Homo sapiens: one gene and its partner. The protein of the gene in region 1 interacts with the protein of each later gene in a biochemical or structural test. Each region holds a gene or a part of one and is shown on either strand. Other genes may lie near its edges.

Evidence for each region. Proteins that work in one complex are often made in the same cells at the same time.
Region 2: the proteins of TNRC6A (region 1) and CNOT7 form a complex in vitro, tested with the Homo sapiens proteins (one study listed by BioGRID).

Annotation. Positions count from the first base shown.
Region 1 is NC_000016.10:24,732,200-24,736,672, forward strand, and holds part of TNRC6A (trinucleotide repeat-containing gene 6A protein), read left to right. Parts: intron 1-4,473.
Region 2 is NC_000008.11:17,227,162-17,229,857, reverse strand, and holds part of CNOT7 (CCR4-NOT transcription complex subunit 7), read left to right. Parts: 3' UTR 1-2,696. UniProt on the Homo sapiens protein: Has 3'-5' poly(A) exoribonuclease activity for synthetic poly(A) RNA substrate. Its function seems to be partially redundant with that of CNOT8.

The sequences.
Region 1 (4,473 bases):
AGAGGTGATTAGGTGGGCAGATGCTTCCTTCATCTCCATCTCTAGCTGTGTTTCCTTTTTCACAAAAAAGAATGTATCTGTCTTTACCCATAGTGCTCTCTCCAGGAAATCAAGGCATTGTATTCATTGAGTAACCATTTTTTGAGCATTTTCGATATTTCAACTGTGGGACTGGGCACTAAGCCAGGGAAGAATGTAAGTAGTTAAATTTATTGATTGCTTACTATGTGCCTGGCACACTTTTCCTAAGATTTTACATGGACTCATCTGATCCTTGAAAAACCCTGTGAGGTAGGTAGTATTGTTATCTCCGTTTTACAGATGGAGAATTTGATGTATAAAGAGGTTAAGTAACTTGGAGGAGACCATATCACTGGTAATTGGAGTAACTTTTTAGGCTTCGAACTTGCAAAATTTGAAAATTTCTTTTGGTAGGCGGGACCCACAGATGCATGCAATACTTCTAGATCAGTTTTTTCATCTGGGCACTTGACATTTTGGACCAGATAATTTATTATTTTGAGGGTTGTTCTGTGCATCACAGGATGTTCAGCATCCGCAGTAGCACTCCCCGTCCAGTTGTGACAATCACCAATGCTTCCAGATATTGCTAGATGTCCCTGGGAGTGGCGCAGAATCGACCCTGGCTGAGAACCACTGCTCTAGATCTTCATTAGGAATTGTAACGTGAAAGCCTCCAAACTTTTAGATGTTGAGTTAATTTAAACATCTTTTGGTCGAGTGCTGTGGCTCACACCTATAATCCCAGCACTTTGGGAGGCCAAGGCAGGTGGATTGCTTGAGGTCAGGAGTTCGAGACCAGCCTGGCCAACATAGTGAAACCTCATTTTTACTAAAAATACAAAAATTAGTTGGGCGTGGTGGCATGCGCCTGTATTCCCAGCTACCCGGGAGGCTGAGTCAGGAGAATTACTTGAACCCTGGGAGCGGAGAGCCGAGATTGTGCCACTGCACTCCAGCCTACTTGACAGAGTGAAACTCTGTCTGAAAAAAGAAAAAAAAATCTTTTAATAACATGGAAGCCTAGACCCTATTATGTAGATCCTCAATTTGGAAGCCCTGGTTTCTGAATGTCAAAGATGTGTTGCCATTCTCCTTTTCCTCTGCTAAGCTGCAAATCCTCAAGACAGTGTGCCTGGTAGCCAGTGCCAGTTAAACAACATTGGCACAAATAATAAATTTAGTTTACTATCATAGGTAAACTGTCTTTTAAAATTCACAGTTGGCCATTAAAATTGTCACATTATGTTAGTATCATGGGAGCCATAATATCTACATGAGGGCGATTACCATTAGAACTGAACTTTGAAGAATGGAATCAGTTTTGAAAGGCAGATAAAAGGGCATTGTAAGAACAACAACAGAAGTAAGGACACAAAAATCCAGAAAGTACAGGAGATTTTGATATTGCAGTGGGTAGTTCAGGTTATATAAGGTATTTGTAGCAAACTGGTTAAGGCCAGATATAGAGGTTCTTGAATGTCAGGTTGAGGAACTTGTGCATAAATTTTTAGGTATGGGAGCTATTGCATGCTTTTTGTTGCGTACTGATGTGATAGAATAATCTTCTGGTCTGGGATTACTAACCAGGTGTATTTATGGGAGAAAACTAGCGATCTAGGCAAGAAGCGATGGAGGCCTGAATTGAAGTGGTGGCAAAAAGAGGTGAGTGAGGCTGGACCCAGTGGCTAACGCCTGTAATCCCAGCACTTTGGGAGGCCAAGGCAGGAGGATTGAGCCCAGGAGTTTGAGACCAGCCTGTGCAACATGATAAGACTCTGCCTCTACAAAAGAATTTTAAAAAATTAGCTGGGTGTGGTGGTGTGCACCTGTAGTCCCAGCTACTTGGGAGGCTGAGGTGGGAGGTTTGCTTGAGCCCAGCAGTTTGAGGCTTCAGTGAGCTGAGTTTGTGCCACTGCATTCCAGCCTGGGAAACAGAGTGCAACCCTGTCTCAAAGCAAAAAGAGAGAGAAAGGAAAAAAAAGATGAGTGTATAAGATACTGAGGAAGTTAAGAATCTGGGATTTGACAGCTGATTAGGTGTCAGAGGAGTCAAAAATACATAGGAATCTTCATCATGGGTGAATGAGAGTTTGACCCAACCTCTGAACAGAACAAGTCAGAGCAGAAATAGGAGTTTGGGGAGAGAAGATGCTAAGTTACATTTTGCAGTTGTAAAAAAAAAATCTACCAGTACTGGTCTAGACCAGTAGAACTCAGCTGGTCTAGTCTGAAAAAATATTTTGGAGGCCAGAATCATAGAATCATTGAATATTTAGAGCTGGACTATGACTTTAGATAGAGATCAGCCAGCATTCTGACTTCTTCATTTCTCAAGTGAGAAAGCTGTGGTTGAAACAGATTCAGTAACTTACGCAAGTTTATATTCTCTGTCAAGTGACCCAGCTGGGATTTAAACAGGCCTTTTGACTCTAATTCTAGTATTCCTCCCATGTGCAGTATTTTATTTTATATTGCACAATAGATAAAATATAATTTTGGTTTCTCCTTTTTTATTCTAAAAGAGTAAAAGCAGTTATCTCAATATGTTATGTTCATTCTAGTGATGACTTTACTATCATGTACTAAATGTGTTTTGTTTAAAGTAGAAGTTAACTTCACGTTATACTGATTTGTCCCCCCATAAACCAACTGTATGTCATCATATAACAAAAGTTGTTAAAAGTGCTATATACCATATAATGTTGCATCTAAACTGGGACACTTATCTGAGATGCTTTTGCGTGGGACAAATGCTATATTAGAAATGACTAGGACTGGCCAGGTGCAGTGGCTCACACGGGTAATCCCAGCACTTTGGGAGACTGAGGCACGTGGATCATTTGAGGTCAGGAATTCAAGACCAGCTTGGCCAACATGGTGAGACCCCGTCTCTACTAAAAGTACAAAAATTAGCTGGGTGTGATGGCATGTGCCTGTAATCCCAGCTACTTGGGAGGCTGAGGCAGGAGAATCTGAACCTGGGAGGTGGAGGTTGCAGTGAGCCGAGATTGTGCCACTGCGCTCCAGCCTGGGCAACAGAGTGAAACTCTGTTTCGAAAGAAAGAAAAGAAATGACTAGGACAGCAGGAGTAAAACCCCAAGGCATTAGGTCTCCGTAGCTAAGGTGGATCCCACTCATGCAATTCATCAACCTTTGTCTGAAAAAAAAGAAAGAAAATCTGATTTTGTTAAGCTTTTCTTTTGCTTTGCTGTGATACGGTTTGCAGGCCAACACATGCATATTGCTATAGGTTGGTGCGAAAGTTAATTGTGGTTTTTGCTCATTTTTAATGTACCAACCCAATATGCTTTTTTTCCAGCTTAATTTGGCAATTAGGTGGTAAATCACTTGATAGGATAAATTAATCACAATCTGTAAACTTAATTTAAAAATGTGTAACAACCCTCTGTGGAAAATTTGAATATAAACATCAAAAGAATACCATTCTGTAAGCTCTTTTGATTTTTGGCATCTGAAATGTCTGAAAGTATAAATTGCAAAACATATTTACAATTTTAATGACAACTGCAAAAGTATTGCCCATGATTGGAAAGACTAAAATGGTATGCGTTATATGTATTCTGTTCAGGCTGATGCATGATAAATCTCTCACTGAAAAAACAGAAATCCCTATCTCATTTTAAAATTTTAAAAAATTGGCCGGGCACAGTGGCTCATGCCTGTAATCCCAGCACTTTGGGAGGCCGAGGTGGGCAGATCACTGGAGGTCAGGAGTTCAACACCAGCCTGACCAACATGGTGAAACCCCATCTTTACTAAAAATACCAAAATTAGCCTGGTGTGGTGGCACATGCCTGTAATCCCAGCTACTTGTGAGGGTGAGGGAGGAGAATCGCTTGAACCTGGGAGGCGAGGGTTGCAGTGAGCCGAAATTGCGCCATTGCACTCCAGCCTAGCCTGGGCACAAAAGCAAAACTCTGTCTCAAATAAATAATCAATCATTCTAACCTTAAGCAAAATTGGAAAAATGTTGCAACTAATACCTGTATCTCTTTACCTAGTTTTAGTGATTATTAATATTTTGCCACATTTGTTCTATCGTGACATTGCACACCAAAGTATGGCAGTAGGTATCTCACAGAATAAGGGCATTCTACCTGACAGCAATCAAATGATCACCCACAGGAAGTTTAACTTTACAATTCTGTCTGGTCCCTATTCAGATTTTCCCAATTTTCTCAAAATTTTTTTTAAAGTTGTATTTGTTCTTTCACTCAATTGCTGTATCCTGGGTTGCATTTAGTTGTGTCTGAAGTTTCTCTTACATTAGGAGCATTTTCCTGCCCTTTTCTGCTTCTCTCTTGACAATGACATTTTGAAATAGTCCAGTCTAGTTGTTTTTGCAGACTGAAATTTGCATTTTTTGGGTCTTGTCTGTATGATTAGGTTCAGGTTGACCCTTTTTGGCAGGAGTATCCCATAGGTGA
Region 2 (2,696 bases), on another chromosome or scaffold:
TACCCTTTTTTTTTTTTTAAATTTTGTAGCCATTCTTATGATGCTCTTGATTTGTTGGTTACACAAATCAATTTTATTAAAAATCCAAAGATAAGTCTTTAGGTATATTTTGTACCAAATTAAATTAGAAGACAAAAATTGTGCTTTCATAGTTGCTACAAAGGTAAATAATGGAGAGATTTGGTACAAAACAACAAAATATATATATATTCTCATATATATATATATAGCTGATAAAATTACCTGAGGAGTGTAATGCTTATTTTTTTGTGTATATCTTTGCAATCTATTTTATATATATTGACAAAAGAGACTGTGAAATACTTAGCCATGCAGAATATGTGACCAGACCAGAGCATGTGTAGGAAGACTTTACGGTAATCATTAACTCTACCCCGAAATGATGGACTACAAGTTATAATGTGTGTTACCTACACTTCAATCAGTAATATTAGCAAATCTCCAAATGTTAGTCACATTGGTTTGTCTCCCTTGTACATTCTTTATTCATGATATTACAGTGCTGTAACTGGGTGGTCCTTTTTAAACAAAACATTATTTGCAAAACAGAGGGTATTATTTGTTTTTAAAGCTTTTGTAAATAAAGGCTTCAAAATGTTTTCTTATAAATGTTGATGACTGGTGATTTTCTTTTGGAAATACTTATTTGGGGGATATTGTTCATTTTTATTTGGGCAACTCAACAGAATTCAGTAACTTCCTTCATTAACCCTAGATGATTATTAGTCCATTAATTGAAAAATCAGTCTGAGTTTTCTGCATTTCAAGTGTTGGCTTATTCTTGTTCTTTATGAGTACCTCAACTAGCTAATTAAGGACTGACTTCTGTTTCTCCTTTCCAGGAATGCATTTATTCCGAAGGATATACTTCACAAAGTAAATACATTTGGTATAACTGTGGCTTTTTAAAAAATCTAACACAATGTAGTAAGTTTCTAACTGGCTTCTTTTGTCTTCGTTAAAAAGGAAGTGAAGCTTCTTTTCGCTTGTGATTTGTTAGCTGAGAAAACTAATATTTAAATTCTGTTCAACTATTTGAGAAATCAATGCTGGATTTCAAATAGGAATGATAAAGATTGCCTTTTTATTAGCCACATAGTTGCTCAATCTCATAACTTGTATCATTTCTGGCTTCTGTCCCTAAAAAGTATAGATAATCCCTAACTTACTTTCGACTTAATGATTTTTCAACTTTACAGTGGGTGTATTGAGAGGTAACCCCATCAAAAGTTTAGGAGCGCCTTAGGACCAAAGATGGGGTTATAGTTTCTACTGAATGTGTATTGCTTTTGCACCATTGCAAAGTCAAAATTTATAACTTGAACCATCGTAAATTGGGGGACTGTATGCTGTTGCCTGCATTAAATGCATCTTAGTATTTTTTCAGATGTAACCTCATTGTAGGTTGAGCAACCGTATAGTGTAACTTTTGTAGAGGAACATTTTGACTTTTACTGGGTCTAAGTTTTACTTTTTTATTTTGTTCCAGACAGTCTCAATGTTTGTAAAGTCTAGGTTCCAGATGTAAGATATTTGGCTGATATTTTAGTGTTACTGAGCCATTAATTAATTACAGGCTCATATATTCTGTTAAATCTACTAGAGCAAGGGTTGTCAAACTATGGCCCGTAGCCAGAATCAGCTTGCTGCCTGTTTTTGTGTGGCCCATGAACTGAAAATGGCTTTTAAATGGTTGGGAAAAATAATCAAAAGATTATTTCCTGACATCTGAAAATTACATGAAATTCAAATTTTAGTGTCTATAAGTTTTTATTGGAATGCAGCCACACTAATTTACATATTATCTATGGATACTTTTTTGCTATAATGGGAAAGTTGAGTAGCTGCTACAGAACCTGTGTATGTGTGTCTTGTTTCACATTGCCGCTTGGCAAGCTACAGAATCATGGTGATGCAGATATTACCTGAAAGCATTTGGAATGCCCTGTGTATTGCTAGATTTATTACTTTTTCTGCTACCAGTTCATGCCCTGTATCTCAGAACAAGAAAAGTACCTTTGAATGTTACACTTTCAAGGCACATTGGAATATGGACTATTTTATTATATGCTGGTACATTGTGTTTATAATGCAGTGTCACCATAACTGGTAAAAGAATAGACTGACAGTATCAGACTAACATCACAATATTCCCAACTGGTGGGAAAGCAACAGTCAGAAGAATTAGAAAATTTAAATGAAACATCACAGCAAAATTTCACAAAAGTAATAAAAATGAGGCTGCAACCAAAATGTTTACAAGTAGCCTATTTGTTAGCCAAGCAAAGAAAACCATTTACTAATGCTGAATTACATCGTGCTTGAAGATAGTAACCAACCCAAAGACATGTGTCCAGAGAAAATTAAGACATCAGCCCTTTGATGAGAACAGTAGTTTGAAGAATGAGGATTTTGGACACAACATCAAATGACACTGTTAATTCTTTGCCTCTTACTAGTCAGTACTGCCTAGCTTTATTTTTTGAGAAACCATTGCTGGATTTGAAGTGATCGAAGAATTTGTATGGAACTACAAGTGGGAATATTTTCAAAAAAGTTGATAAACAGTACAACCTGAAGTGGAATCTACTAAGATGTGATGCAACCGATGCTGGGAAAAATGCATGAAGCAGAAAAAAAGTTTATTTGGTCAAATTTTAAGGCTTGTGAAAACG